Linked DNA regions of Homo sapiens: regions 2 and 3 are each linked to region 1. The links come from fine-mapping of genetic effects on gene expression. A gene starts in region 1. Each other region holds a variant in brackets. All regions are shown on one strand. Distances are from middle to middle. Region 1 holds the start of MASTL (microtubule associated serine/threonine kinase like). Region 2 overlaps ACBD5 (acyl-CoA binding domain containing 5). Region 3 overlaps ANKRD26 (ankyrin repeat domain containing 26).

What was found. PIP is the estimated chance that this variant, and not a neighbour inherited with it, causes the effect. A credible set is the group of variants that fine-mapping cannot tell apart.
Region 2: its variant is the best candidate, but not a certain one, in a credible set for the expression of MASTL in tibial artery (GTEx, PIP 0.89).
Region 3: its variant is the best candidate, but not a certain one, in a credible set for the expression of MASTL in tibial artery (GTEx, PIP 0.74).

What each region holds. Positions count from the first base shown.
Region 1 is chr10:27,147,868-27,157,990 of GRCh38, reverse strand. It overlaps MASTL (microtubule associated serine/threonine kinase like), which reads right to left and starts at 2,639. Exons shown (of 12, transcript NM_001172303.3): 1 at 2,379-2,639. The coding sequence starts at 2,564. It overlaps YME1L1 (YME1 like 1 ATPase), which reads left to right and starts at 3,607. Exons shown (of 19, transcript NM_014263.4): 1 at 3,607-3,813; 2 at 8,951-9,085. The coding sequence starts at 3,781. RefSeq lists enhancers at 1,948-2,197, 2,818-2,877 and silencers at 2,552-2,750, 2,548-2,757.
Region 2 is chr10:27,188,429-27,198,551 of GRCh38, reverse strand. ACBD5 (acyl-CoA binding domain containing 5) reads left to right here. Exons shown (of 13, transcript NM_145698.5): 13 at 1,110-3,338. The coding sequence ends at 1,122. It also overlaps the pseudogene RNU2-24P. Among named protein-coding and RNA genes, the nearest start is that of MASTL, 38 kb to the right of the region's middle. The variant C/T (reference allele first, on the strand shown) is at 7,184.
Region 3 is chr10:27,071,206-27,081,328 of GRCh38, reverse strand. ANKRD26 (ankyrin repeat domain containing 26) reads left to right here. Exons shown (of 34, transcript NM_014915.3): 7 at 2,168-2,240; 8 at 3,636-3,696; 9 at 3,789-3,991. Among named protein-coding and RNA genes, the nearest start is that of ANKRD26, 24 kb to the left of the region's middle. RefSeq lists enhancers at 3,143-3,312, 8,276-8,809. The variant G/T (reference allele first, on the strand shown) is at 5,491.

The DNA of each region.
Region 1 (10,123 bases):
TAATAGAAAAAAAATTCTGTTCCACTGTTCTGATAACGAAGTCAAAAGACAGTTACATTCCTCATAAGCCCACAGATAACTAGCACCTGGGCGTGGAGTAACTACTTAATTTTTTTTTTTAACTTCTGATTTTTTGATAGATGGGGATAGAATCAGAAAGAGGAAGAATGTCGGAAGTTTGCCTAGAAAAAAAAAATCTTAAGTTGGAATGATTAGAACTACTGAAATTTAACAGTCCCAAATGCTGTCTTACAGAAAACTAATTACTCTTTTCAAGTTTCAAGGTAATCTGTACAGAAACAGAACTATTAAAGTTGGAGCACTAAGAAAAATTAAAAATACATAAATAAATAAATAAAAATAAAGTTGGAGCACTAAACTGAATAGTCAGTAACACTGGGATCAATTCTCAGGACTGCTATAAGAAAAAAAGGCATATTTCTTTCAAAGATTTATTCGAGTACTTAATAAAATCATTAGTACATGATAAATTCCTGCCTTAACTCCTTTCTTTAAGAAAACTGAGGGAAACTGACAAAGCAAGCTGGTAACATGATTTTTCCTATCATTCCACTGGCTATGAGGGCATGTGTGTTTTGTTCCCCATTGTTGTCCAGTTCGTAGACACAAAGAGGGTGGGTGCTAAGCAAATACTGACTGAACACATGGATTGGTGTTTTCATTTCAACTGATCATGACTAAGTACTGTAGAAGGAAAAGTAAAAATCTCAGGAACATATAAAGTAACCAATTCAATCAGATCTTCCAATTCTGAAAGATTAGGGAAGGTGTGAAGGGGAGCTAAGATGAATCTTAATACATGAATAAGACAGGTGGAGAAGAGCACAAAAGGGTAGAAGAAAAGCACTTAAAAAGGAACCAGCATAAGGCCAGGCACGGTGGCTCACCCCTGTAATCCCAGCACTTTGGGAGGCTGAGGCGGGCAGATCACCTGAGCTCAGGAGTTTGAGACCAGCCTGCCCAAAATGGTGAAACCCCGTCTCTACTAAAAATACAAAAAATTAGCCCGGTGTGGTGGCGGGAATCCCAACTACTCGGGAGGCTGAGGCAGGAGACTCGCTTGAACCCGGGAAGTGGAGGTTGCAGTGAGCTGAGATCACGTCACTGTGAAACTCTATCTCAAAAAAAAAAAAAAAAAAATTCATAGCAGGGCAGGGCGCGGTGGCTCACACCTGTAATCCCAGCACTCTGGGAGGCCGATGTGGGCGGGTCACCTGAGGTCAGGAGCTCCAGACCAGCCTGGCCAACATAACCAAAACAACCTGGCTAAATTCAATCTCGGCTAAAAAAAAAACTACACAAATCAGCCAGGCATGGTGGCGCGCGCCTGTAATCCCAGCTACTCGGGAGGCTGAGACAGGAGAATCGCTTGAACCCAGGAGGCAGAGGCTGCAGGGAGCCGAGACTGCACCACAGCACTCCAGCCTGGGCGACAGAGAAAGACTGTCTTAAAAAAAAATTATTAAAGACTTCTCAGAAAATAGTAATCTTTCTTCTGGTTAAGAATAAAACTTAAAAAGTTATCAGTGCCTACAGATTAATCACTCTTCTGTGGTAGAAAAATTTCGACGATTCTGCACGTCAAAGCAAACAAGGTAAACAAAACCACTAATTACTAAAAACCTTTTGGATTTAGAAACCTAACTCGCCGGGCGCGGTGGCTCACGCCAGTAATCCCAGCACTTTGGGAGGCCGAGGCGGGCGGAATACGAGGTCAGGGAATCGAGACCATCCTGGCTAACACGGTGAAACCCCGTCTCTACTAAAGAAACCCCGTCTCTACTAAAAATACAAAAAATCAGCCGGGCGTGGTGACGGGCGCTTGTAGTCCCAGCTCGTCGGGAGGCCGAGGCAGGGGAATGGCGTGAACCCGGGGGGCGGAGCTTGCAGTGAGTCGAGATTGCGCCACTGCACTCCAGCCTGGGAAACAGAGCAAGACTCCGCCTCAAAAAAAAATAAAAAAGAAACCTAACTCAAGCCAGGGTGAGACTACGAATCACGGCTTTGGCTTTAAGTGCCTGTTGTACTAAGACCGATGTAATCACCTCGGTCAAGTCCCTTTGCCTTTGGCCTCAGTTTCCTCATTTGCTAACGCTGGGCAGGGAGAAGAGAGTCAAACTTTGCTGTTCTCACTGGGCATCTGAGATATGGAGGGAAGGGCGGAACAGAGGCGAGACACCCGACCCGACCGCTGATGTCGCCCCAAAAAGAAGTCAGCTCGCAGGGCTCTGGAGGCTTCAGCAAGCCAGGCCACCCAGACTCCTCGCTCCAGCAACCCCGGGGCCTGCCCAAGCCGGTGGGGCAGGAAGGAGGGCCGAAGGGCCTAACCCCTTCCTTGCTACTCGTTGACTTCCTACCTTTACTGCATACAATTTGCCGCCTTTCTGCCCCAGATACACTTTCCCGAAGGCGCCCCGGCTAATGGGCTTCACTATGCTGAATTCCTCAATGGAGGGCGGTTTTGGCACTGCGATCCTATTCACGCCCTCCTCAGTCGCCGCGCCTCCTCCAGGCTCCTTCTTGCTTCCCGCGGTGGGATCCATCGCTGGACAGCATACAGCGGCCCCGCAGACACTGCCCCTCCGCGAGCAGCCACTCCCGCCAACTGGGTTCAAAGTGAGGCTCCGCCCACGCCGCGCGCGGCCGTGACGTCACCCCGCCGCCGCGCCCCGCCCTCGTCACCTCCCCTACGCAGACGCGGACGGAGGGGGCGTCGGGAAAGCCCCGACTTCGCAGCCTTACACTCTTCGTGGGCGGCGACCGCGGCCCCACTGACATCATTCCTCATGAGGGAGGAGGCACAAACAGTTCTGGGCCGACCAGAAAAAGGACGACTGGGACTTGACTCTGAATCGCAGGATTTGAAGAGATTTCTCCTGGCTTCCCAACGAGGCTGGTGGGAAGCGGTCCTCCTCCCATACACGACCTCCCACCCTCGCGAGGCGTAGAAACCAGTTCTGACTGTACAGTAAAGCGAGGGCCAGGGCTGAGGTCTGGAAGCTAATGAAAGCACAGAAAGTGTCGAAACTGGATGAGCAGGAAGCGAGTGGCCTCCCCTGTCATCTGACGTTTTCCCAGGATGTAATTTGCCTGACTGAAACAGATCAGGACCAACAGGGAGAGTTTTCGATTTAGTGTGAGGAAAAGAGCACTAAATTGTAGCAAAAGACCTTATTGCTCAAGGCCCAGTCAGAAGATTTCATAAGGAAGCTGTAGAAAGTCTTAAGAGGAAATCAGCCGGGCGTGGTGGCGGGCACCTGTAATCCCAGCTACTCGGGAGGCTGAGGCAGGAGAATCGCTTGAACCCGGGGAGCAGAGGTTGCAGTGAGCCGAGATCGCGCCACTGTACGCCAGCCTGGGCGAAAGAACGAAACTCCGTCTCCAAAAAAAAAAAAAACGAAGAAAAAGTCCAAAGAGGGTAAAGGCTGTTCTCCCCTTAAAAAACAGCTAAAGACCTTTGGGGGCGCTGCTCCTTGTAAATGTCAACTACTTCCGCGGGAAAGAACGCGCAGGCACTTGGCCTTGTGGGCGCTCACTTGCCCCGGAAGTACTGTTGAGTTAGCGCCTCGCCTTCCGGGGCGGATTGTCTGTCGTTGCAGTAGCTGTAGGAAGGGGAGGCCATTTTCCGTTTCTGGGAGGAGTGAGGGGCAACGGGTCGGAGAAAAAGGAAAAAAGAAGGGCTCAGCGCCTCCCCGCCGGGCCGTGGACAGAGGGGCACAGTTTCGGCAGGCGGGTGAGGTCGCTGAGGGCCCGCCGGAGATGTTTTCCTTGTCGAGCACGGTGCAACCCCAGGTAAGCCAGGCATTCAGCCCATTTTTTTTCCTCCCGCCCTGCCCGTGGCTGTTTGCAAATTGCGCTCGTGGAAGCGATTTCTCAGAAGGGACTCTAGAAATGAAGTGATGTACTCAATGCGAATCCCAGGATTGAGGAGTGGATCAGGGGACGACGCTGAGAGTGGGCCGGAGACTTCAGTGCTGACGATGAAGCTGTTGAGGGCAGAGGCGGGATGTGAGCTCAGTGATAGAGAGAGACCCTGGCTTATCGAACTGATTGCGTGGAATTTCTGCTAGAGAATCCGTCCGGCATTGTTCAGTGTCCGGCGTTCTGGGGTGGGAAAATGTCTGTACCATACATTAAAGGGAGCAGGTAATGTTCCCTTTTTTCCGACTTTCCAGTGGCTTTAGTGTTCACAGCCCCTATCCCCTGCTCTTTATTTCCTTTTAAATGGAATTTAAATTTAACCCAAACATGGTATAATATTTCGGATGGCCAGCCATGCAAGTTTTTTTCTCATTTTGACCAGAAGTAACTAAAATGTGTATTTCCGAGTCGTAAACTGTTTGCAGTTAAAATTTTGATTCAGCCTCATCCTCATCGTTTTGTAAAACAAAAGGTAGTGAAGAGAAAAATGATTTCAAGGGTTTTCATTACGCTCTTGGGCAATCACTTGTGACAATGTTTTATTCTTGCTTCATTCCAGTCTCTTTTTTTGATGGTAACATTTTAATAGATTTTTTGAGAGTTCCTACAGTTTTGCAAAGAAATAGTTTTTAAAACATTGAGTTTTTTTAAAACATAATTTTTAAGAAAATCGACACTCTTAGGTTCTTGATTTAAGCATATGATTGTGTTCCTTTGTGTAACTTTTACTCCCCCTCATTTTAAGAATTTTTAATTTTTTGTGCTAGTACTGGCTAACAAACTGAAGCAGCTGCTTGTTATTGGGCATCAGTTATGTACCAGGTGAGCAAAGCAAATGTGGAATCTTCTCTTAATATTGATATGAAGTAAATATGAGTAGGACTTAGCAAGGTGAAGAGTGAACAGGTATCACAGGCATACAGAAAAATACCTGGAGGTCCTGAGTTAGGAAAGGGTTTAGCAGGTTGAAGGAACAAAAATAAGGCTAGTGTGGCTAGAACATAGTAGTTAAAGGGGGTAGTGACAGAAGAGGTTGGAGAAAAGACTTGAGGCAGATCATACAGGGAGTAAAGGATATATTATGGCTGATTTCATTTTAAGTGTATTGGGAACCATTGAAAGTTTTAAAACATGATTAGATTTTCATTTTTAAGAGATGACTGGCTTTTGCTATATGGAGAATAGGAGAGGGCAAGAGTGGAAGATGTTATCAGCTAAAAATACCCACCCACCCCCCAATTAAAGCTGTTGCAGTGGTTATGGAAAGAAGAGAATGAGATATATTTTGAAGAAAGTGGAATTGCATGAGAGATCAGAGAGATGATGGGGAGAGGTGTTTCTGGGTTTGATCAGATGAATGCATTGAAGGTGCTATTTACCAAGATGACAGTGTCTGGAGAAGTCCTAGTAATTGTTTGAAAAAGAAGTCTGACATGGCCTATTGAATATGGTATTGAAGTTTTTGAAACTCAACTCTTTGCCTTAGTTCACATCAAGAGGCCTGATTTTAGGAGAATTTACCATCAACTGAATGGACAGTTAGTAGTATGTGATGTTGGTAGAGATGATAAAGGGATTTTTATGTACCCTAGGCAGTCTTAACAGGGCTCAAATATAGTGAGGACTCTCAGGCATTTCTTGCTTTGAAGGATGGTAACACATTTGGAATTCCTTGTTGCTTAATTGGTTGAATACACTTGAAATTAAATGGTAAAAAGGAAGACACAGAAAATGAACTTTTTCATTGAGAAGAGCTCAACTCTAAATCCTTTTGTGAAAGAAAAGAGATATAACTAATTCAAATAAAAGAGATATAACTAATTCAAATAAATCTTTTCAAAGAGGTAGAAAATATGTATCTTGAAATGATTTGATTATTTTTAAAGTTTCAAAAGAAGTTACTGTTTATTTTTTTTTCTTTTTACTGCCCCCAGGCTGTAAGGAACTTACTGTTTCTTTCTGACTCTAAAAATGATACATTGCTTCACTTGACTAGCCTTAAAACAAATCCATGTTTTTTTGCTAAAAATGCTGAAAGTATAAATAAGATCGCCCATAATCTCATTACTCAGGGATACGTATCTTAGACTAAATTCTTTCACACATTTTTTTCTATAAACAAACACGGGTATGCATACTTTTTTTTATTTTAATTTTTTTTTTTTTTTAAGATGGAGTCTCGCTCTGTCGCCCAGGCTGGAGTGCAGTGGCGCGATCTCCGCTCACTGCAAGCTCCGCCTCCCAGGTTCACGCCATTCTCCTGCCTCAGCCTCCCAAGTAGCTGGGACCACAGGCGCCCGCCACCACGCCCGGCTAATTTTTTGTATTTTTAGTAGAGATGGGGTTTCACCGTGTTAGCCAGGATGGTCTCCATCCCCTGACCTTGTGATCCGTCCGCCTCGGCCTCCCAGAGTGCTGGGATTACAGGCGTGAGCCACCGCGCCCCCACGGGTATGCATACTTAAGGTAGTTTTACGGTCAGCTTTATTCCTTAGTATGTCACGAATTTATTTGTGTATCAATATCCATGGGATGAGAAGTCTGGAATTTTGAGTCAGATTCTAAATCTTTGTTGTCTTCATCTATTAAATGGTCTGTACCCACAATAATGGCGTTAGTCCATTGATGAGGGCAGAGCCCTCCTGAACTAAATGCCTCTTAAAGGTCCCACCTCTTAACAGGATTACAGTGGCAACTAAGTTTGCCATTGTTCTCAACTCAAACTTGAGTTTTGAAGGAGATAAACACTGGAATTTTTACTGGAAGTGGGCCCTGATCCAGACCCCAAGAGAGGGTTGTTGGATCTCGCACAAGAATTCGAGAGAGTCGCCAGGCGCGGGGACTCACGCATGTAATCCCAGCACTTTGGGAGGCAGAGGCGAGCGGATCACGAGGTCAGGAGATCAAGATCCTGGCTAACATGGTGAAACTCCATCTCTACTAAAAATACAAAAAAATAGCTGGGTGTGGTGGCCTGCGCCTGTAGTCCCAGCTACTCGGGAGGCTGAGGCAGGAGAATCACTCGAACCCAGGAGGCGGTGGTTGCAGTGAGCCGAGATTGCATCACTGCACTCCAGTCTGGGCGACAAAGCGAGATTCCATCTCAAAAAAAAAAAAAAAAAAAAAAAGGCGAGAGAGTCTATAAAGTGAAAGCAAGTTTATTAAGAAGGTAAAGGAGTAAAGAATGGGGTACTCCATAGGCAGAGGAGCTGCTTGGGCTTGTCCACGAAGGATACCTACAGTTAGTTATTTCTTGATTTTATGCTAAACAATGTGTGATTATTCATAAGTTTTCAGGGAAAGGGGGACCCCTAAGGTTCCTCCCCTTTTTAGACCACATAGGGTAACTTCTTGATGTTGCCATGGCATTTTTAAACTGTCATGGTCTGGTGGGAGTGTCTTTTAGCATGCTAATGCATTATAATTAGCACATAATGAGCAGTGAGGACTAGCAGAAGTCACTCTCCTCTCCATCTTAGTTTTGGTGGGATTTGGCTGGCTTCCTTACTACAACCTGTTTTATCATCACGGTCTTTATGACCTGTATCTTGTGCCCACACCCTATCTCATCCTGTAACTTAGAATGCCTAACCTCCTGGGAATGCAACCCAGTAGGTCTCAGCCTCATTTACCCTCATTTTGCCCCTACTCCAGATGGAGTCACTCTGGTTCAAAAGTCTCTGACAGAACTGTAACAAGAAGTATAATTGTTACTCATTATTATAGCTGTTTGAGGATTAAATGGGATGATAGAAGTAAAGCCTGTAGTACTAAACCTGGTATATAATAAGAACCCATTTAATGTATTCATTTACTCAACAAATATTTATTAAGTAAATTTTTTTTTTTCTTGAGACAGGGTCTTGCCATGTCATTCAGGCTGGAGTGTGGTGGCATGATAGCTCACTGCAGCTTCAACTTCCTGGGCTCAAGTGTTTTTTTTGTTTTCATTTTTATTTATTTATTTATTTTGAGATGGAGTTTTGCTCTTGTCACCCAGGCTGGAATGCAATGGCATGATCTTGGCTCACTGCAACCTCCGCCTCCCAGGTTCGAGTGATTCTCCTGCCTCTGCCTCCCAAGTATCTGGGATTACAGGCGCCCAACACCATTCCTGGCCAATTTTTTTGTATTTTTAGTGGCGATGGGATTTCACCACGTTGGCCAGGCTGGTCTCGAACTCCTGACCTCAGGTATCTACCTGCCTTGGCCTCCCAAAGTGCTGGGATTACAGGCATGAGCCACCATTCCCGGCCTACTTACTATTTTTTTTTTTTTAAATGTTGGATGTATTTCATTCTGTGGTAGTTTCTTTTTTTTTTTTTTTTTTTTTTTTTGAGAGACAGGTCTCACCCTGTTGCCCTGGCTAGAGTGCAGTGGCATGATCACAGCTCACTGCAACTTCCGCCTCCTGAGATCAAGCAATTCTTCTACCACAGCCTCCCAAGTAGCTGAGACTACAGGCGCACACCATCACACCCATCTAATTGTTGTATTTTTTGGTAGAGATGGGGTTTCACTGTGTTGGTCAGGCTGGTCTTGAACTCCTGACCTCAAGTGATCCACCCACCTCGGTCTCCCAAAGTGCTGGGGTTACAGGCGTGAGCCACTGCACTCGACCAGTGGTATCATTTGTTTTGCCGCTCCCCTAATGCTGGATGTTTCCAGCTTTCTACTATTTTTTAAATGTTTCGATGAGAGTTGTTCTCTATGCATGTGCAAGTACTTGTCAGATTATTTCCTTATAATAAATTCCTAGAAGGTGGATTGCTACAAACAAGAAATGTATGTATTTTTGATACTTTTGATTTACATATTCAGAATAATATCCTGAAAGAACATACCAGTTTTCGTCTCACCAGCAGTAAATCTGAGTACTTACAGTTTTTAGTATACAGAGTTGATATATAATGTACCTTTAACTCTTAACAAATCCTGACAAAAAAAGGAGATTGTTCTGTTTATTTAAAAAAAAACTACTTAGTTTTTAACTTTTATCTTTTTCTAGGTTACAGTTCCTCTGAGTCATCTCATCAATGCCTTCCATACACCAAAAAACACTTCTGTTTCTCTCAGTGGAGTGTCAGTTTCTCAAAACCAGCATCGAGATGTAGTTCCTGAGCATGAGGCTCCCAGCAGTGAGGTAAGTCTTTATCCTGGTTGTGTGAGAAAGCCTTTTTGATATACAGTTGACCCTTAAACAAATGAAGGATTAAGGATATTGTCCCTCCCCCGTAGTCAAAAATTTGAGTATAATTTTTGACTCCTGAGAAACTTAACTACTAATACCCTACTATTGACCAGGAAGCCTTACCGATAAAATAAAGGGTCCATTAACATATATTTTGTATATTTTATGTATTGTGTACTGTATTCTTACAATAAAGTAAGATGGAGAAAATGTTATTAAGAAAATCATAAGGAAGAGAAAACATATTTACCATTCATTAAGTAGAAGTGGACCATCATAAAGATCTTCATTATCTTCAAGTTGAGTGGGCTGAGGAGGAAGAGGAGGGGTTGGTTTTTCTGTCTCTGGTGGCAGAGACCGGAGAAAGTCCACGTATCTGTGGATCTGTGCAGCTTTAATCTGTGTTGTTCAAGGATCACCTGAGGTCAGGAGTTCAAGACTAGCCTGACCAATATGGTGAAATCCCATCTCTACTAGAAATACAAAAATTAGCCGGGTGTGGTGGCGTGCGCCTGTAGTCCCAGCTACTCAGGAGGCTGAGACAAGAGAATAGCTTGAGCCTAGGAGGCAGAGGTCGCTGTGAGCCAAGATCGCACCACTGCACTCCAGCCTGGGTGACAACAAGACTCTGTCTCAAAAATAAATAAATAAATAAATATAAAAATGTAATCTCATTTTTTGGTTTAATCTAAAAAAAAACACCTGTTTTTACAGGGAAGTGGAATAGGTAGGGATTTAAGAAGTAAATAAAACTCTTAAAAAAATAAAGGACCAGCAGATTTAGGGAGCAGCTCATACTTCTAGGGCTGAGATAGAGTCAGGAAGAGTTCTCCATCCCCAGGGCTGAGATCCTGACATTGTTGGCGAAGGCATGGCCTTGGCTCACTGAATGGTAGAAAAGTTGCTGTGATGTCATGCCAGGGTAACGTGCTAGAAATCTGGGAAGTCTGCCCTCTAGGATACTGGGAAAAGCTGTTCCTGGGGATGTGT
Region 2 (10,123 bases), 41 kb before region 1:
GTACATAAGAGGATTTCTGCAGAGGATAAGGAATGATCTGATTGTTTAAAATATCACTCCTGCCAAAGGAGTTGCATAAGGGTATTTCTACAGAGAGGAATCAATCTGTTATGAGAGTTTCAGGCATTTTGGCATCTTGAGTGCTGGGGAGGGTTTGTAGATTTTAGAGCAGAACTCAGATCATATGTGATGGTGTAAGGTGCTAACAAGCTCAGCCTTTTCTGATAGCTCATTCACTCTTCTGTCTTTGAAACCATCATATTATATATATCCAAGTTTGGGATTTATATGCCTCTTCCTCCCCCACCACCTAAACTGAGAGCTGTCTTGAGGCCTGAGAGCCTGCCTCATTTATCTCTGAATGCCCAGGGCCTGGCACAGAGCCTGGAAAGTAATAGAAACATAATCCATGTTGATTAAGTGAATACTCCAGGTCGTACATCTATTATCCTCTTACAGTTTTGTTACGCATTTGTTTCATAACTTTTCCATTTTGATAAAATTATGAAATCATTTCCACAAATCTTAATTGTGTAATAGCCAATTAGAAAAGGGTAAGAATCTAGAAAGTAAGAGAGGATGAATGTACATTTAAATTATTTATTAAAAACTGGCCAGGATGGCTGGGCGCCATAGCTAACGCCTGTAATCCCAACACTTTGGGAGGCTGAGGTGGGTAGATCACCTGAGGTCAGGAGTTCAAATGGCGAAACCTCGTCTCTATTAAAAATACAGAAATTACCCAGGTGTGGTGGCACACACCTGTAATGCCAGCTACTTGCAAGGCTGAGGCAGGAGAATCGCTTGTACCCGGGAGGCGGAGGGTTGCAGTGAGCCAAGATGGCACCATTGCAGTCCAGCCTGGACGACAGAGCAAGACTTTGCCCCAGTAAATAAATAAATAAATAATTTAAAACTGTTTGGTAATTTCAGCACTTGTAATTGGATCTTTCCTATCAGGCTGCAAGTCATATGATGTAGTTCTATAAAGACTGTTGGTAATATTATGGTTTTATTTTGAATTTGTATGTTATTATTATTATGTTACCATCCAGAGAATTATTTGCATTCATACTCACAGGAAATTGGTTTTTATTTTCTTTTTAAAGAAAACTGAACTGAGGAAAATGGTGTTTTCCTCAAGAAGACTACTGGAACTGGATGACCTCAGAATGAACTGGATTGTGGTGTTCACAAGAAAATCTTAGTTTGTGATGATTACATTGCTTTTTGTTGTCCAGTAGTTTAGTTTGTGTACATATATACACATATATATTTTGCACTACACAAACGATAACATTTTAAGGACTAATATTGCTGATACTTGAATAATCAATCTCTACTAGGTTATAAGTAGTATACACAGATTTACCCTGCCCTTGAACTTGAAGGACATTAAATTATTAATGATCATTTGGTAACATGTTTACCTGATTATCTTCCATAGAGTAACATAAGCTGCTTTTCAAAGGTACCATTGTGATAATGAGATCAAATTTATAAGTTATTATTTTTAATTTTCTAAATTAAATAAAAGAAAGAATGCAAACCAGGAGTGAATTTCAAATGAGATGTAATCGACTTTATATCTTAGTCACGGAGTTGCCATGGCATGTAGTAGAAAACCACAGGAAGAATGGTCATATTCACTTTGTGGGCTGCCCATAATCTTTCTTGGGCATTCACAACTCTTGAGTTTGGTGTTCAGGCATCATTATTAAAAAGTGGAGTCCTATGTACCAGACTGAGTTTTTACAAATGATTTGCAGGCTAGACATAACCCACTGATGGAAATGGTGAAGAATGAGCTTCATGTAGGTTTAAAAGTGTATTCTGAGCCTGTAGATGATTAATCAGGTTTTTATTCAATCATATAAATGTATTCCTTTGTAATCATTTTTGTTTAACTGAGGATATCTAGTGTCTGCTTCATAGGGTGCTTTGAAATATAAAATGAAAACTTATTTATACTGTTTTTACAACAGTCAAAAAGGAAACACACGAAAATCACTTTTCTGCAACTGATGAACTATATAGACTGGACTCTTAACCTCTTAGTGCCTCAGTTTTTCCTTCGGGGTATACTATTTTAGATACACCTACTTCACAGGAGTACTGGAGGGATTTGCAAGCTAACGGGCCAAATGCTTCCATAGGAATAAGGCATGCCCAGCTAACAGAAATTTAAGTCCCTCTTCCCCACCTCTCTCATCTAGACCAAAAAGAAGACTACAATTTAGATCCTTGGAGACTTTTCCTGTATGCCTTCCAAAACTTCCTGCTCACTTAGATGTACCTTGTGCTTTGAAGATTTCTTTGATGCAGTCTTTGTAACAAATAATTTTTTTTTTTAAATGGAGTTTCTCTCTTGTTGCCCAGGCTGGAGGGCAATGGCGTGATCTTGGCTCACTGCAACTTCCACCTCCTGGGTTCAAGTGATTCTCCTGCCTCACTCCCAAGTAGCTGGGATTACAGGCATGCACCACCATGCCTGGCTAATTTTGTATTTTTAGTAGAGACGGGGTTTCTCCATGTTGGTAAGGCTGATCTCAAACTCCCAACCTCAGGTGATCTGCCTGCCTCGGCCTCCCAAAGTGCTGGGATTAGAGGCGTGAGCCACTGCACCTGGCCTGTAGCAAATAATTTTTAAGCATTCTCAAGATGTATGATGTTGGGTTTAACATCATATGTTCACAGTGTTTTAAATAAGAAATAATCTGTCTTTAGTATACAGAATGGTTCTTTGTTTGCCTGAAAAGTATAAGAATACAATTTACTTTTCCCAAACTCTTTTTCCTTATTTTTTTCTTTCAAATAACTTTAATTATTTAATCCCATACTGATTAAAATATGTCTGTCTAAAGGGATCTACTACTATTTGCTTTTAAAAAAGTGTTCCCTATTTATTTAGGAAAAAGTGAAGCAAGCAACTGAATTTATATGTAAAAATAACATTTAGACCTGTGGATCAAAGATTATTTTCAAAAATGAGATATCAATTTGGTATCAGTAAAAAGTGTCTTTTCTCTTAGTATATAAATAAATAAAATGCAAATTAAGAGTGTAAGCAGTTGTGAATCATTACAAGCAGTCTGGGATAACTAACTCCTAGGGATAACCATTTCTATCCTGTTCCAAAGTCTTATTTTATAGTTTGAAAAGCACTTTGCACACAGTTCTTGTATATAAAAGTAAAGATGTAATTATAGGATATAGTGTTCCTGCTTTGTTTAATAAGAACCTCATTTAAACTTGACAGCTATGGTATTTTTTTAATGATAACTTCTTTTCTGTTTATTGTAAAACTAAGTTAAAAATAAAAGGTTAATGAGAAATGATATGGCTTTTATTACTTGTTACTATTAGCCCATTGATTAGGTAAGAATTCAATGAGAGTAAGTAGTAGTCGCACATAAAGTAATTATGACTCTCAAAATAAAGCCATGCTATTCCACACAATTTGATAAAAATCAGAAACTGGGATGAAATTTAACTTATTTAGTCATCTGGTTGAGAATATTAGCAATCCAGTCAGATTCTTGGTTTTACTTTTTTTTGAGACAGAGTCTCGCTCTGTTGCCAGGCTAGAGTGCAGTGGCGTGATCTCGGCTCACTGCAACCTCCGCCTCTCAGGTTCAAGCGATTCTCCTGCCTCAGCCTCCCGAGTAGCTGGGAGTACAGGCACGTGCCACCACTCCCGGCTAATTTTTGTATTTTTAGTAGAGACGGGGTTTCACCACGTTGGCCAGGATGGTTTCCATCTCTTGACCTCGTGATCTACCCGCCTCGGCCTCCCAAAGTGCTGGGATGACAGGCGTGAGCCACTGCACCCAGCCGGTTTCAGTTCTTACACCAAATAAATAGCTTCCCACAGCCACACAATGAACCCTAATCAACCATCTTATTATTATTATTATTATTATTATTATTATTATTATTTGAGATGGAGTCTTGCTCTGCCGCCCAGGCTGGATTGCAGTGGTGTGATCTCAGCTTACTGCAACCTCTGCTTCCCAGGTTCCAGTGATTCTCCTGCCTCAGCCTCCCACATAGCTGGGATTACAGGCACCCACCACCACACCTGGCTAATTTTTTGTACGTTTAGTAGAGACGGGGTTTTGCCATGTTGGCTAGGCTGGTCTTGAACTCCTGACCTCAGGTGATCTTCCTGCCTCTGCCTCCCAAAGTGCTGGGATTACAGGCGTGAGTCACCGCACCCAGCCCTAATCAACCATCTTAAATACACATCTCTGGTCTTATGTGGAAAATGATGAGAGGGTTTTTTTTTTTTTTTTTAATTGAGACGGAGTTTCGCTCTGGTTGCCCAGGCTGGAGTGCAATGGTGCCGTCTCGGCTCACTGCAACCTCCACCTCCCAGGTTCAAGTGATTCTCCTGCCTCAGCCTCCTGAGTAGCTGGGATTACAGGCATATGCCACACTCCTGGCTAATATTTTGTATTTTTAGTAGAGACAGGGTTTCTCCATGTTGGTCAGTCTGGTCTTGAACTCCCAACCTCAGGTGATTCACCTGCCTCAGCCTCCCAAAATGCTGGGATTACAGGTGTGAGCCACCGCGCCTGGCCTGGGTTTTGTTTTTAATACCCATCTATGACTTGTAACTTCTACAGAGTAATAAAAGTGATGTATCATTTAAGGTATCATTATTCTGCTTCATGTAATAGAAACCCAGCTGTGGTGGCTTGACCAAGTAACTGGGTCTTTTCCTTCGATATAAGTCTGGAGATAGAAGTCCAGGGCCGGGAAGGTGCTTCCACAATGCCATTAGGTAGACAGGCTCCTCCTGTCTTTCTTTCTCCCATCTTTAGTGTGTAGCTTTTATCTTCATGCTTGCAAGATAGTGAAGTACATTTAGATCTAATGTCTACATTATAGGCAGGCACAGAGTGAAGCGCAGAAAGCAATTAACAGTTGTATTTTTCCATCTGATCAGGAAACAGTAACTTTCTTGAAAGTCCCACACAGGAGACTCCTCACATCTCATTGGCAAGAACTGGCTCTCATAGTTATATTTTTGTATACAAAATTATTTAATCACTTCTTAGCCTTTTGGCTAAGATCAAGGGTAGTATCAGTTCTTATCAGTTCTTTTTTTTTTTCTCTCTTTTGAGACAGAGTCTCGCTCTGTTGCCCAGGCTGGAGTGCAGTGGCGCAATCTCGGCTCACTGCAACCTCCGCCTCCCAGGTTCAAGCAATTCTCTTGCCTCAGCCTCTCAAGCTGGGATTACAGGTGCCAGACACGTTGCCTGGGTAATTTTTTTGTATTTTTAATAGAGACAGGGTTTCTCCATGTTGGCCAGGCTGGTCTCAAACTCAGGTGATTAACTTGCCGCTGCACTCCAGCTTGGGAAACAGAGCAAGACACACACACACACACACACACACACACACACACACACACACACACACACACACACACGAAGGAAGGAAAGAGAGAGAGGAAGGGAGGGAGGGAGGGAGGAAGGAAGAAAAGAAAGAAAAACATAAAAAAAGAGAAATAGAGAAATTTCCTCACTTGTTTCAATTCTTTAACATGTGTTGAAGAGAACTTTTTTTTTTTTTGAAACGGAGTCTCACTCTGTCACCCAGCAGGCTGGAGTGCAGTGGTGTGATCTCGTCTCACTGCAACCTCCATCTCCTGGGTTCAAGCAATTCTCTGCCTCAGCTTCCTGAGTAGCTGGGATTACAGGCGCCCGCCACCACGCCCGGCTAATTTTTGTATTTTTAGTACAGACAGGGTGTCACCATATTGGCCAGGCTGGTCTTGAACTCCTGACCTCGTGATCCACCCGCCTCGGCCTCCCAAAGTGCTGGGATTACTGCTGTGAGCCACTGTGCCAAGCCTGAAGAGAACTTTTTATACCTACATAAAATCAGGCAAGGGAGTATCAGTTATTTTTTAAATTTTACTGGTCACCCTTTCCCCTCTCTTCTGTCCCCTCCCCTCTTCCCTTGGAGCGCTCTTCCTCCTCCACGAGAATCCAGTGATTCTGGTGAGGCTGCTAAATGGAACACCCAGCTATGCCCATTGCTGCCCCATCGTGACTCACAGTAATGGACATGTGACTCAGCCTGGTCAGCTTATATCCCATTCTCCTGACCACAGTGACATCACAGTGATGGGCATAGAACCAGCAGTCAGTTACTCTCTGGGATTTATTTCATGGAACTAGGAGAGAGAGAGTGTTTAAGCCACCCCATCTCCAGCCCCCAGTAGACTTTTTTTTTCATTATTATAAATTTTTTTTTTCACAATCCCTACTTTGGATGTAGACTTAAAAAAAAAGTGTCAAGGAATGTATCCATTTCTTGTAGGTTTTCCAGTTTTTTGGCATATATTTATTCCCAGTAGTCTCTGATGATTCTTCATATTTCTGCGGTATCAGTTGTCCTGTCTCCTTTTCCATCTTTGATTTTATTTACTTGGGTATTCCTTTTTCTTAGTCTGGCTAAAGGTTTGTTGATTTTGTTTTCAAAGTAAACCAAGTTCATTTTTAAAAATCTTTTGTATTTTGGGGAGTTTCAGTTTCATTTGTTTCTGCTGTATCTTATTATTTCTTCTACTAATTTTGGGTTTGTTTTTGCTTTCCTAGTTAAGATGCGTTGTTAGGTTATTTATAGACTTTATTGTTATTATTTTTTTTTGATTCAGAGTTTCCCTCTCGTCACCCAGGCTGGAGTGCAGAGGTGCAATCTCTGCTCACTGCAACCTCTGCCTCCCGGGTTCAAGTGATTCCCCTTGCCTCAGCCTCCTGAGTAGCTGGGATCATTAGCACCCACCACCACACACCCAGCTAATTTTTTGTATTTTTGGTAGAGATGGGGTTTCACCATGTTGGCCAGGCTGGTCTTAAACTTCTGACCTCAGGTGACCTGCCTGCCTCGATCTCCCAAAGTGTTAGGCTTACAGGCGTGAGCCACCGCATCTGGCCATAGACTTTTTTAGAACTGTTTTAGGTTTACAACAATATCAAGTGGAAAGTAGAGCTCCCATATTCTACCCTCCTCTCCCCCCGCCCCACCTGCACAACCTCTTCCACCGTCAACATCTGGTGGAGTGGTACATTTGTTTCATCTGATGAACCAACATGGACATATCATTACCATGGGGCTCACTCTTAGTGTACATCCTATGAGTTTTGACAAATTTAAAATATGTATCCAC[C/T]ATTATATCATACAGAGTAGTTTCACTGCCCTAAAAAATCCTCTGTGCTCCACCTTGTCATCCTTCCCTCCTAACTTCTGGCAACCACAGATCCTTTTACTGTCTCTATAGTTGTGCCTTTTCTACAGTGTCGTATATTTGGAATCATACGGTGTGTCGCCTTGTCAGACTGGCTTCTTCCAGTTAGTAATATGCACTTAAGATTCATCTGTGTCTTTTCATTGTAGTTCATTTCTTCTTAGCGCTGAATAATAGCCCATTATATAGATGTGCCTCTGTTTATTCATTCACCTGTTGAAGGAAGAGTGTAAAAGAATTTGCAGACATACCATTTTTATTTGGAGGTGTCCAACTGATTTCTTGAATTCTTTATTTGGGTGTCTCACAGACATCTCAAACTTAGTATGTCTACCCATCCTGTCCCTCATTCCAGTTCAGGGTGCAGCACCACAATCCACCCAACTGCTCAAGCCAGAAGTTAGGTGTCAAATGTGGCTCTTCCATTCTCTCACCTGTCTCATCCCATATATCAGTAAAGTCCTGTTGCTCCTACCTCTAAAATATGTCTTGAATCCAGGTGGGCTGGTGCAGAAGCCTTTTATTCAGTCTCCTTCCTTCAAATGTTGTCCCGTACAATACACTTTCCACACAGTTAAAAGAATGACTCATCCATGGTTGGCTTGGTATTAATTGAAAGACCTGGTGTAAACAGTAAATATATTTGTACTATATTCTGGACTCTCAGCATTTTTATAAATGGCTAAAAATAAGACAGTTCTTTGTAGCAAATAGAGGAATTAGACCCGAATGTCCTTCAAGATGTTTTGGAGCATAATAGTAAGGCTTTATATAGTTACCACTTCCCGAACCCAAAATTAAAGTACATATTCCAGGAGGCAGTAGGGTACTTAGGGTTCAAATAATTATCATTTTATTAAACACCTTTTATGTTTGCTATGTACTTCATCTTACTTAATTCTAACATAGGTGGGCCAAGATAAACAGGACATTCTTCAAACATAATTTCTGGATTTGTTTAACATTTAATGGGGGTGGGACAAAACATTTTTAAATAATTTTTTTTGAGGCAGAGTCTCATTCTGTCACCCAGGCTGGAGTGCAATGGCGCCATTTTGGCTCACTGTAACCTCCACCTCCCAGGTTCAAGCAATTCTCCAGCTTCAGCCTCCCGAGCAGCTGGGATTACTGGCGCGCACCATCATGCCTGGCTAATTTTTATATTTTTAGTAGAGACGGGGTTTTACCATGTTGGCCAGGTTGGTCTCGAACTCCTGACCTCCTGTGATCCACTCGTCTCAGCCTCCCAAAGTGCTGAGATTACAGGCGTAAGCCACCATGCCCAGCCTAAAAAACAATTATTATTTTATTTTTTTAGATAAGTGTTTACTGATATTTTTATTTTGGAGCTCCAAAGGAAAACAAGTCACATCTATTATTTTGCATTTTTCATGTAAGAATAAAACATTTTCCTTTAACAGATACCAACTTATTTTTTCTTTTTACTCTTTTTCTAAATTCATCCAATAAACATTATGCCGTTGTGAAAACAAAAGTTTATTTATATATATATATATATATTTTTATTATACTTTAAGTTCTAGGGTACATGTGCACAACGTGCAGGTTTGTTACATATGTATACATGTGCCATGTTGGTGTGCTGCACCCATTAACTCGTCATTTACATTAGGTATATCTCCTAATGCTATCCCTCCCCCCCACCCCACAACAGGCCCCAGTGTGTGATGTTCCCCTTCCTATGTCCATGTGTTCTCATTGTTCAATTCCCACCTATGAGTGAGAACATGCGGTGTTTGGTTTTTTATCCTTGCGATAGTTTGCTGAGAATGACGGTTTTTAAAAAATTTAGATAGAGACAGGGTCTTGCTATGTTGGCCAGGGTAGTCTCTAACTCCTGGCCTCAAGCAATCATCCCACCTTGGCTGTCCAAAGTGCTGGAAATAAAGGCGTGAGCCACTATGCCCAGCCACAAATTATTTTTTATTAATACAAACTGTATATAGCTGGCCGGGTGGCTCACGCCTGTAATCCCAGCATTTTGGGAGGCTGAGGCGGGTGGATCACGAAGTCCGGAGTTTGAGACCAGCCTGGCCAACAAAGAACAATACATTTGTAGAGAAATGACAGGACAAAGGAAAGTGGTTTTAGGCTTCCAAGGACTGGAACCTTTGGGAAGGCAAACACTGTATGTGGGAGGAAACTAATTGAATAAGGTTTCTTTGCCAATTCCTCTGGTGCTGTCCCTGGTAGATAAGACTCTAGAATTGTCTCCAGCAAAGGAGAAGTTATATCCTGCCTTTGGGCAGAAAGGCAGGGGGATGGCGAGAGCTTTCCTCAGTTTGCTGCTTCTTAACTGCCTTTAGCTCAAAAATATTTTTATGTCAAAGAGGCATTTTAGGATGATATGTTCTGATTTCCTTCATAGCAAAAGATGAGTGGATTTCTATTGGTGGCCGTTGGTGTTTTTTAAAGACGTGCATGCACACATATACATCAGCTGTCAAAACCATCCCCTTTTTCCCATTGTTCTTTCCTCTTAGGTTTTTCCCTAGCAAGTGTCTGAATCTACATCTTGACAGGTATAAATTTAGATAATAAGTCACCTGTTCCCAATAAATACCATTACAGCATGCCTTACCTGTGGCTGAATTTCAAGTGACTATAGCTTCACATGCTAGGTCTGTTAGTAAACAGTGTAACTTTCCACTCAAGGCCATTGTCTTGTGCATTGGGAATATGCTCAGAGAACATTTCCCCGATTATTCAGTAATGTTTCAAGTCCCTGTTAAGGTTAATATCCTGGGTAGCAACTAAATTGGCTTGTTCCTCAATCTACTCTGTTCATTCCAACTCTCCAAATTAATCACTATTAATCCCCACTATACAGTGAGTCATCAA
Region 3 (10,123 bases), 77 kb after region 1:
ACTGGGTTGGATAGGAACCGGGCTTTTGGAAAAGAGATCAGAATATTGGGGTTTTTGACAAGTTCGATAATGATAAATTACTGGAATGAAGGATACAGGATGTTTGGAATTATCTAGAAAGGCATATTAAAATAGGGGGTTCAGGGGAGTCCTGAACAGGTTGTTGCTTTTTTATATAATTGGAGGAACTGACAAACTCTCAAGGTTTCTACTGAAAAATGTTAAAATAATTTGAGCCACTGGGAAGAGTCTCTACAGCCAGTAGGAATGTACTATAACTACTTCTGCCTCAACTTATCGGTGGCTTTGAGCCCCTCAAGTACTTTGGAGCTGGAGGCTGCTGAACTACATAGATCTGTGGCCCAGGGCAGGTGTCCCCTCACCTCTGCCTCCTTTCCCAATTCTCTGATGTCCTTCTCATGGACATGTAGGGTAGGGCAGGGGTAGGATTAGCTGGCAAGTCAGTCATGGAGCAACCCAAATCATGGAGTTGGGTAGTTGTTAACATGCCTGTGCTGCTGGCAGATGACAGAGACTCCATTTAGCTTGTTTTCCAGGAGCAGAGATATAGAGAGCTTCTACTCTTGGGCATTTGAGACCATCCTTTCAGGAATTTGTGCCTTCATAGGCTGAAGACTTAAAGGTTGGAGATGCTATGGAGCCCTGCAGAAGAGGGATCTGTAAGTGGGAGCTTATAGGAAGGAAGGTGTTTAGATAGTACTTAGGGAAATATAGGTACAACTACCAGGACTCTTTCTCCAGCATTCTTTCTCTTTAGGTATCTGAGTGCCTGTAAAGATTTTTAAGGGCTTGCTAGTTTAAGGCAGGACCTCTATAGGGAAAATAATTGGATTTTATAACTTTTAATGTTTTAATATTTCTGGGGTGAGTAGTCCCAATAACAGCATATACGTATGTGTTTTGACTTTTGCCCATCTAGCTTTCAAACATTTCACACATTTCAGGGGACTCCTTATACTGTTTTAGGGTGAAGGGAAGCAATGAGGCCTTAAGTGGTTTTCATGTTGAAGAACCAAGACTGCCATTTTTGAGTGACACATATTAGTCTTTGAAATGGAGATAGATAGTGGAGAAAGGACAGTGTATCTTTCTACCTTGTTTTATGTATTTATTTATTTATTTATTTTATTTTATTTTATTTTATTTTTTTTGAGACAAAGTCTTGCACTGTTGCCCAGGCTGGAGTGCTACAGCATGATCTCAGCTCACTGCAATCTCTGCTTCCTGGGTTCACACAATTCTTCTGCCTCCACCTCCCAAGTAGCTGGGACCACAGGTACACACCACCACACCCAGCTAATTCTTTGTATTTTTAGTAGAGACAGAGTTTCACTATGTTGGTCAGACTGGCCTTGAACTCCTGACCTCGTGATCTGCCCGCCTCGGCCTCCCAAAGTGCTGAGATTACAGGGATGAGCCACCGTGCCCAGCCTATTTATTTATTTTTATTTTTTTGAGACAGTGTCTTGCTGTGTCACCCAGGCTGGAGTGCAGTGGCATGATCTCGGCTCACTGCAATCTCTGCCTCCCGGGTTCAAGCAATTCTCTTGCCCCAGCCTCCTTAGTAGCTGGGATTACAGGCACATGCCACCACGCCTGGTTAATTTTTGTATTTTAGTAGAGACAGGGTTTCGCCATGTTGGCCAGGCTGATCTCGAACTCCTGGGCTCAAGTTATCTTCCTGCCTCCGCCTCCCAAAGTTCTGGGATTACAGGCACGAGCCACCGCATCTGATCTCCACCTTGTTTTAGATTATCAGGTTTGTGCTGGTTCAGGTAACGAAAGTTATATCAGCCATTAATTGGATTTTCAGTTCAGCCTTCGGGACAATTTGTGAAGACAAAGTATTCCCAGGTTCTGCCATTATCTTGGCTGTCACTATTAGTTATAGAACTAAGGTTGAGTCTTTATCGAATATTTTATAGTTTCGGAGAGGTAGAGGCAGCAATTGGTAACTAAAATATTTTTCAAAAACAAGATCAAATTTTAATTAGATCAAGAAACATCATTTAATATGCAGACAGTTGACCTTTCACCAGGTTTTTGTTTTTTTGGAGGGGGCATCCAGATTGAAAATTGTAAGCTGGTTTTTGTTTTGTTTTTAAAGAAATGAATTCACTCATTTTTCTATATTTTTGTTCTAAAGGCTTTCTGGCAAACCGGGTGTTGATGATTCATGGCCTACCTCAGATGACGAAGACCTCAATTTTGATACTAAGGTAAAGTGCTCTCTCATGAACTTAATTTTCTTACTCTGAATCTAGTTTCGTATAGTATTCTCTTAAAATTTTGCAGTGGTCTACTTATCATTGTTTTCTGTTTGTAATGGAAAGGTGGTCAGGGGAAGCCATTTTATAGAAATATGGCCAGTTGAATTCTTTTTTTTTTTTTTTTTTTACTTTGGTAAATAACAAAGGATTGATAAGTACTTTGAGGGAGTGGGGATTGCAAAAAAAAGAATATACTGGAAAATACATAGTGACAGGAAAATTATATTGGGAAAAGTTTTCCTACAATAGAGGAAATATGAAATTTGGTCAAAGTTTATATGGATAAGCACTCCTACTATGATTTTAAAATCTTTTTCCATTTTTCTCTCTCTGTAGTAAGAATGTTACAGCTTTCAGGTAGTAGTAGATGATCATTTTTAACTAATTGGATGACTTAAAATTAAACTGTTTACTACAGAAGTATTTTTTAAAAAACTGGTTGTAAATACTAATCAGTATTATCAGGGATATCCTATGAACAAAAGTCTGTTACAGGTCTGTGTTTCTCAGTGTGCCTTAGTATACTTAAAGCCTTTCCTTTTCTTCCTTGACTTAAGCTCACACTCGAATGGTCATGCCTCTATTTTTTTTCTCCCTACTCTTTCATCTTTTAAAAATGATTTATCTCAGCCTAAATGTTTCCTTGCAGAATACATTTCTTCAGTTCTGTTATTTCAGTCCATGTCTGTCTCCATTTGCAGCATATTTAGGTGCAGCTTTCTATTTATGTAGTTATGTGTGGCTTTTGTTCAGCAATCATTGCCCCACAAGGATTATTTTTGTTTTTTTCTCTGTTTCTTGTAAGGAGCTGAATTTATACAATCATTTATTTTTAGCTTTTTGACAGAATAGAAGCAGCCTATACTATTTGCAGTGCCAACCCACTTTCATAAAATATACTAAGAACAAAATGCTCACAGTTTTTCTCACAAGAGGTAATTCATGCAAATATAAATCATGCATACACATTTCAGAAAATAATATGTAATTAATTTAAATGTTTTAATGTTTGACTTTTATAATACTCTACCTAGGAAAAAATTTTCATTTTAGGCTACTGTGGTTAAGAAAATAATCGAACAGATATCATAGTATTTATATAATAATCAATTAGGGGTAAGGGGAGTAACCTTTGGAGGATATCTGTATCATCTCTCATAATCCTTACCCCATGAGAAGATGTAGCAAAGGGCAGAACTGAGGTTTAAATCTACATCTGAGTGACTCCAAAATCTTTGTTCTTTGTGTTAGATCATGTAGTAATGGTGACTATCTATTACGATTATTTTATCAAATTTGATACTTGTTTTTTTAAAACTTGTTATTCTTATTTTTGTTTTCTAGAATGTCCCAAAACCAAGCTTAGCAAAGCTAATGACTGCTTCTCAGCAATCCAGGAAAAATTGTAAGCTGTTTGAAAACTGCTTATTCTTGTGTTATTCACTGATTCTTAATTACATATATTTTCATTTACTCTTTATTTTGTTTTTACTGTAGTAGAAGCAACATATGGCACTGTGAGAACAGGAAATAGAACTTTGTTTGAGGATAGAGATTCCGATAGTCAAGATGAAGTTGTGGTTGAAAGCCTTCCTACAACATCAATCAAAGTCCAGTGCTTTTCTCATCCTACCTATCAATCACCTGACCTTCTTCCAAAACCTTCCCACAAGTCGTTAGCAAACCCTGGTCTTATGAAGGTAAGTTGTTTTTTAAAAAACTTTTTTCATGTACCCTTCCCCTGCCCCAACAATCCTCATAATGATGCATCTATTGAGATGATCATACAGTTTTTGTTTCTAATTATGTTTATGTGATGAATCACATTTAAGACTTGCATATGTTGAACCATCCCTGCATCCTTGAAATGAAACCCACTTGATCATGGTGAATTATTACTTTGTGATGTGCTGTTGGATTCGGTTTGCTAGTATTTTCTTGAGGATTTTTGTATCTATATTCATCAGAGATATTGGTCTGCAGTTTTCTTTTTTTGTTATGTCCTTTTCTGGCTTTGGTATTAGGGTGATACTGGCTTTATAGAATGAGTTAGGGAGGATTTCCCCCTTCTCAACCTTTTGGAGTAGTTTCAGTAGAATTGTTATCAGTTCTTTTTTGAATGTCTGGTAGAATTTAGCTGTGAATCCGTGTGGCCCTGGGTTTTTTTCTTGTTGGCGGTTTTAAAATTACTGATTCAATCTCACTGCTTATTACTGGTCTGTTCAGGATTTCTATTTTTTCCTAATTCAAGCTAGAGGAGTTACGTGTTTCCCGGAATTTTTCAGTTTCCTCTAGATTTTCTAGTTTGTGTGCATAGAGGTTTTTATAGTAGTCTTGAGCTATCTTTTGTATTTCGGTGGTATCAGTTATACTGTCTCCACATTCATTCCTACTTGAGCTTATTTGAATCTTCTCTCTTTTCTTAGTTAATGTAGCTAGTGGTCTATCAACTGTGTATCTTTTAAAAAAAAGCTACTGGGCACGGTGGCTCACACCTGTAATCCCAGCACTTTGGGAGGCCTAGACGGGCAGATCACCTGAGGTCAGGAGTTCGAGACCAGCCTGGCCAACATGGTGAAACTCCGTCTCTACTAAAAATACAGAAAAATTAGCCAGGCATGGTGGTGGGTGCCTGTAATCCCAGCTACTTGGGAGGCTGAGGCAGGAGAATCACTTGAACCTAGGAGGTGGAGGTTGCAGTGAGCCAAGATCACGCCATTGCACTTCAGCCTGGGTGACAAGAGTGAAATTCCATCTAAAAAAAAAAAAAAACCAAACAAACAAAAAACAAACTTTTTGTTTCATTGATCTTTTATATTGTGTTTTTGGTTATAAATACATTTAGCTCTGCTCTGATCTTTGTTATTTCATTTCTTCTGCTAGCTTTGGGTTTGGTTTGTCCTTGTTTCTCTAATTTCCTGAGGTGTGATGTTAGTACTGATTTGCTGTAAGAGGTTTTGATAATTTGTAGCACTGTTATTTATTTCAAAACATTTTAAAATTTCCTTCTTGATTTTATTATTAACTCCGAAATCAGGAGCAGATCATTAAGTTAAATGGGAATTACCATATGTTTGTATAATTTTGAGGGTTCCTTTTGGAATTGATTTCTATGTATTCTGCTGTGGTCTGAGAAGATACTTCATATGATTTCAGTTTTTTAAAATTTATTAAGACTTGTTTTGTGGCCTATCATATG[G/T]TCTATCTTGGAGAATGTTCCATATGCCTATTAAAAGCATGTATATTCTGCAGTTCTCAGGTAGAATGTTTGGTAAATATCTGTTAGATTCATTTGTTCTTGAGTGCAGTTTAAGTCCAATGTTTCTTTGTTGGCTTTCTACCTTGATGACCTGTCTAGTGCTGTCAGTGGAGTGTTGAAGTCCTGTACTATTATTGTGTGGCTATCTCTTTTCTTAGGTTTTCTTAGGTCTAGTAGTAATTGTTTTATTAATCTGGGAGCTCTGAAGATAGGTGCGTATATATTTAGGATTCTTAGATCTTCTTGTTGAATCGATCCTTTTATCGTTATATAGTGACAATTTTTATCTACTTTTACTGTTGTTGCTTTAAACTCTGTTTTATCTGATATAGGAATAGCTACTCCTGCTCACTTTTGGTTTCTCTTTGTGTGAAATATCTTTTTCCACCCCTTTATCTTGAGAGTATAGGAATCCTTACATGATAGGTGTGTCTCCTGAAAACAGCAGAGAATTTGGCTTGTGATTTTTAAAAATCCATTCTGCCAACCTGCATCTTTTAAGTGGAGCATTTAGACCATTTACTTCAATGGTAATATTGAGATCTGAGGTACTGTTCCAGTCATTGTGTTGATTGTTACCTAGTGACTTTGTTTCCTCCATTATGTTATTGTTTTATAAACTTTGTGAATTGTATGCTTTCAGAAGTTTCTATTCTGTTATGTATCAACCTTTTATTTCAACATTGAGAACTTTTATAAATATTTCTTGTAGGGCTGGTCTAGTATTGACAGATTCCCTCAGCATTTGCTTGTTCAAGAAAGACTTTATTTTTCCTTCATTTATGAAACTTAGTTTTGCTTGATACAGAATTCTTGGCTGATGATTTTTTTCCTATTTAAGGAGACTATAGATAGGACTCCAGTCCCTCCTGGCTTGTTAAGGTTTCTGCTGAGAAGTCTGCTGTTAGTCTGATAGGTTTTCCTTTACAGGTTATTTTTAAAAATTCTTTTTATTTAATCTTATTTATTTATTTTATTTTATTCTTTTTATTTTTGTCTGATTGGATTAATTTGAAAGCCTTGTCTTCAAACCCTAAAGTTCTTACTTCTATTTGGCATAGCCTACTGTTAAAACTTCCCACTACTTTTTTTCTTTTCCCCCCTCGAGACAGAGTCTCTCTGTCACCCAGGCTGGAGTAGTGTGATCTCAGCTCACTGCAACCTCCACCCCCTGGGTTCAAGCACTTCTCCTGCTTCAGCCCCCCTAGTAGCTAGGATTACAGGTATACGCTACCATGTCCAGCTAATTTTTGTATTTTTAGTAGAGACAGGGTTTCGCCATGTTGGCCAGGGTGGTCTCAAACTCCTGACCTCAAGCGATCCACCCACCTTGGCCTCCCAAAGTGCTGGGATTGCAGCCGTGAGCCACCATGCCCAGCCCCCCACTACATTTTGTAGTTCCCTAAATGTGTCTTTCATTTCCAGAAGTTCTGATTGGTTTTTCTTTAAAATATCTTTCTCTTTAGAAAATTTTTCATTAAGATCCTGAATTGTTTTTAAAAATTTCTTTATGTTGGTTTTTACCTTGCCCTTGTATATTCTTGAGTAACTTAATAATCAACCTTTTGAATTCTTTATCTGGTATTTCAAAGATTTCATCTTGTTTTGTATCCATTGCTGGAGAGTTAGTGTGATCTTTTAGGGGGATTATAGAATGCTGTTTTTTCATATTACCAGAATTATTTTTCTGGTTCCTTCTAATTTGGGTGGACTATTTCTTGTAATTATTTTTGAATTTATTTTTGATTTGACTGGGTTTTTTTTTATTTATTTTTCCCCCCTTGAGGATGTGACTTGAATGTCTATAGTTTATTGTCACCTAGCTTCAGCTCTGGGTGCTTTCAGTAGTGAAGACCTTGTAGTAGTGAGCTCCTTCGTTACAGAGAATCTTTGTGTGATGATTTTCTCAGATGTTGGTAGTAATAACGATGTACTGGGTCTGTGAGCAGGTTTACTGTTTCCTGTGGGACTGGAATGGCAGAAGTCTCACGAATCTTATCTCATTCTCCAGTGTTGTGCACTTAAAAATTCAGATGCCTACTCTGTTTCCTAAAACATTTTTTTCCCCAGTATTTTATTTACTGGATTGAACATTTCAGGCCTCAGGCTGAAGGAGCCCATGGGTAAAAACTGGTTGCAGCTAAAGCAGGTGGATAAATGCAGTACCCCAAGTTTGGCCTTGACAAATGTGGCAGGGGGAGCTCTCAGTGATATGCACTAAAGTGTTTTCAGGGGGAAGGGAGGGAGCCACAGGAAAGCAGTCTGCCTCCCAGTCACACTCTTGACCAGGTGTTCCAGCTAATCAGATCAGACAGGCACCTTTTTTAATCTTCAGGAATACTGATGTTCCATATAGAGAGGGATTGTGGTCCTCATGCAAGCCTGAACGTGGAGGGCAGTCCTGTGGGATGCAGTCACCCTGAAGTGCTTCAGGAAGGCTGTCTACAGATGCACGCACATCATGCTGTCGTGGGAAAAGCCCCAGCTGTGTCTGCAGTGGTGGGCAAGAGGGAGAAGTTCTCTTCTCCAAGACCCTTCACATGCCCCAGGGCTACCTGTTAAGGGAAAGCCTTAGATTTTCTCCACTGAGCCCAGCACTGCACCTGTCCCTCTGCTGAAGGAAACTTCCCACAAGCGGAAGGCCTGCAGTCTGGTTTCTTTTTTTCCCATGGGGTGCCCTCTCAATGTGGTGCATTCCTTCCCCTGGGAGTAGCAGCCCCTGAGAACCTGGCTGCTGTGAATCCTGCTGCTCCTCTGGGTCTAGCCACCCAGTGGGCTGCCATACTCCAGGGTGGTGCTGGGGAATGTCTGCAAGGGATCCAGTGAGATGACCTGTCCTCGAGTCTCCCAGCAGCGGGTACCAGCACCTGCTCTGATAGGGTGGGAAGGGGAATGATGTAGACTCTGTGAGATTTCCTGCATTACAAATAGCCTTTGTGTGTTTTTTCAAATGCCAGCTGTAGTATTAATGTGCTGGGCACATAGACAGTTGCAGGACCTCCTGGTTAGCCAGAAAGATGCAGGCAGTGGTGATTAACTGAAGATGCACAGAAGTTTCCTACTTCCTTGGTGCTGTGTCATTGTGCTTGCAGACGTTGTGATGGGCTGTGCTTGTTGAGTTTTAGCCAGGAGGTGGCGCTTGCAAAAGAGCGCCAGTTGCAGTGGTAGTGGTGGGATTTGATTGCCTTAGGTTACCCAAGGGAAATACTCTGGAGTCTCAGACAATGGTTGGGGCCATGGATCTCCCAAAAGTCCCTGTCCATTGTGTTATGCTACCATGGCAGGTGGAGGGCAAAGCCGGGTGGGGGCTGGGTGAGGCCAGTCCACACTCTGGCTCCCCACATGTGGGTGCAAGCAGTGGAGCGGCCCCATTGGGGATCAGAGGGCAGTTCCCTGGCTGCTAGAGTAGTGTTCCAGGGAGAAGCTCAGCTGCCTCTGCTGCACAAAAGAATCCACAGAAGGAGCTGGGGATATCAGGCAACAGTATGTCTCATGCAGCACGGGCTTGGCAAGGCAGGTCTCACGCCTATAGGGTTCTGCTGGCAGCAGCAAGCTGGATTCCAGTCAGCTTGTGCTTGGAACTCAAAATTGTCCCAGGCCATAAGCCTTCCTGAGGGACAGAAACCGCACTTTCAAGCCATGCCCCTCCTGATCCGCCTGTGGAACAAGGGGCATCCAGCTCCTGCAGCCTGGGCACACTTCTTGTTCACCCTGTGGTTCTGGCCGATGGGGTTATCCCCACTCAAGATGATATGGCAGCTCTCATTTGGGAGCTTCTCTCCACCTGTGATGGCAGCCTGGGTCAGCTGGCTGACTTCCGGCAGGACGCCTGTGAGGTAGGATCAAGAATGGCTTCCCTCTGTCCCTCCTGGAGTCAGGGAATGCATGCAATGTATATGGGGATGCCGCTTTTTCTTGTGTGCCCCCACTGCTCACTCAGTCAGCTCCAGCGCGGGGGGAGTTAGGGCTTCCCCGTGGCCTGGATTGCCGGGCTTCCCAGTGGAAGTGTGTTCCAGGGACCATCTCTCCCGTTCACACTCTAGAGGCTCACGATTTTCTACCTGGTTCATCGTGTACACTGCTGCCCGCCTGTTCTTTCACAGGGTCTCTGGTTTCTTTAAGTTTTTCTGTTAAGGTCCTGTGTTGCTTCTTGGAAAAAAGTTTGCAGCGCAAATCCCTACACACTATTTTGCCTTTCCAAGAGGGAGAGTCTTGGTCACAGTGCCTCCCATCTGTCATCTTGGGAAAAAAATTAGGGAAAATTAATTTTAGTATAAGCATTGTTAGAGAAATGAATGTAGTCCCGGCCGGGTGTGGTGGCTCATGCCTGTAATCCCAGCACTTTGGCAAGCCGAGGCGGGCGGATCACGAGGTCAGGAGATCGAGACCATCCTGGCCAACACGGTGAAACCCCGTCCCTACTAAAAAAAAAAAAAATACAAAAAATTAGCCGGGCTTGGTGGCGGGCGCCTGTAGTCCCAGCTCCTCGGGAGGCTGAGGCAGGAGAATGGCGTGAACCTGGGAGGCAGAGCTTGCAGTGAGCCGAGATCGCGCCACTGCACTCCAGCCTGGG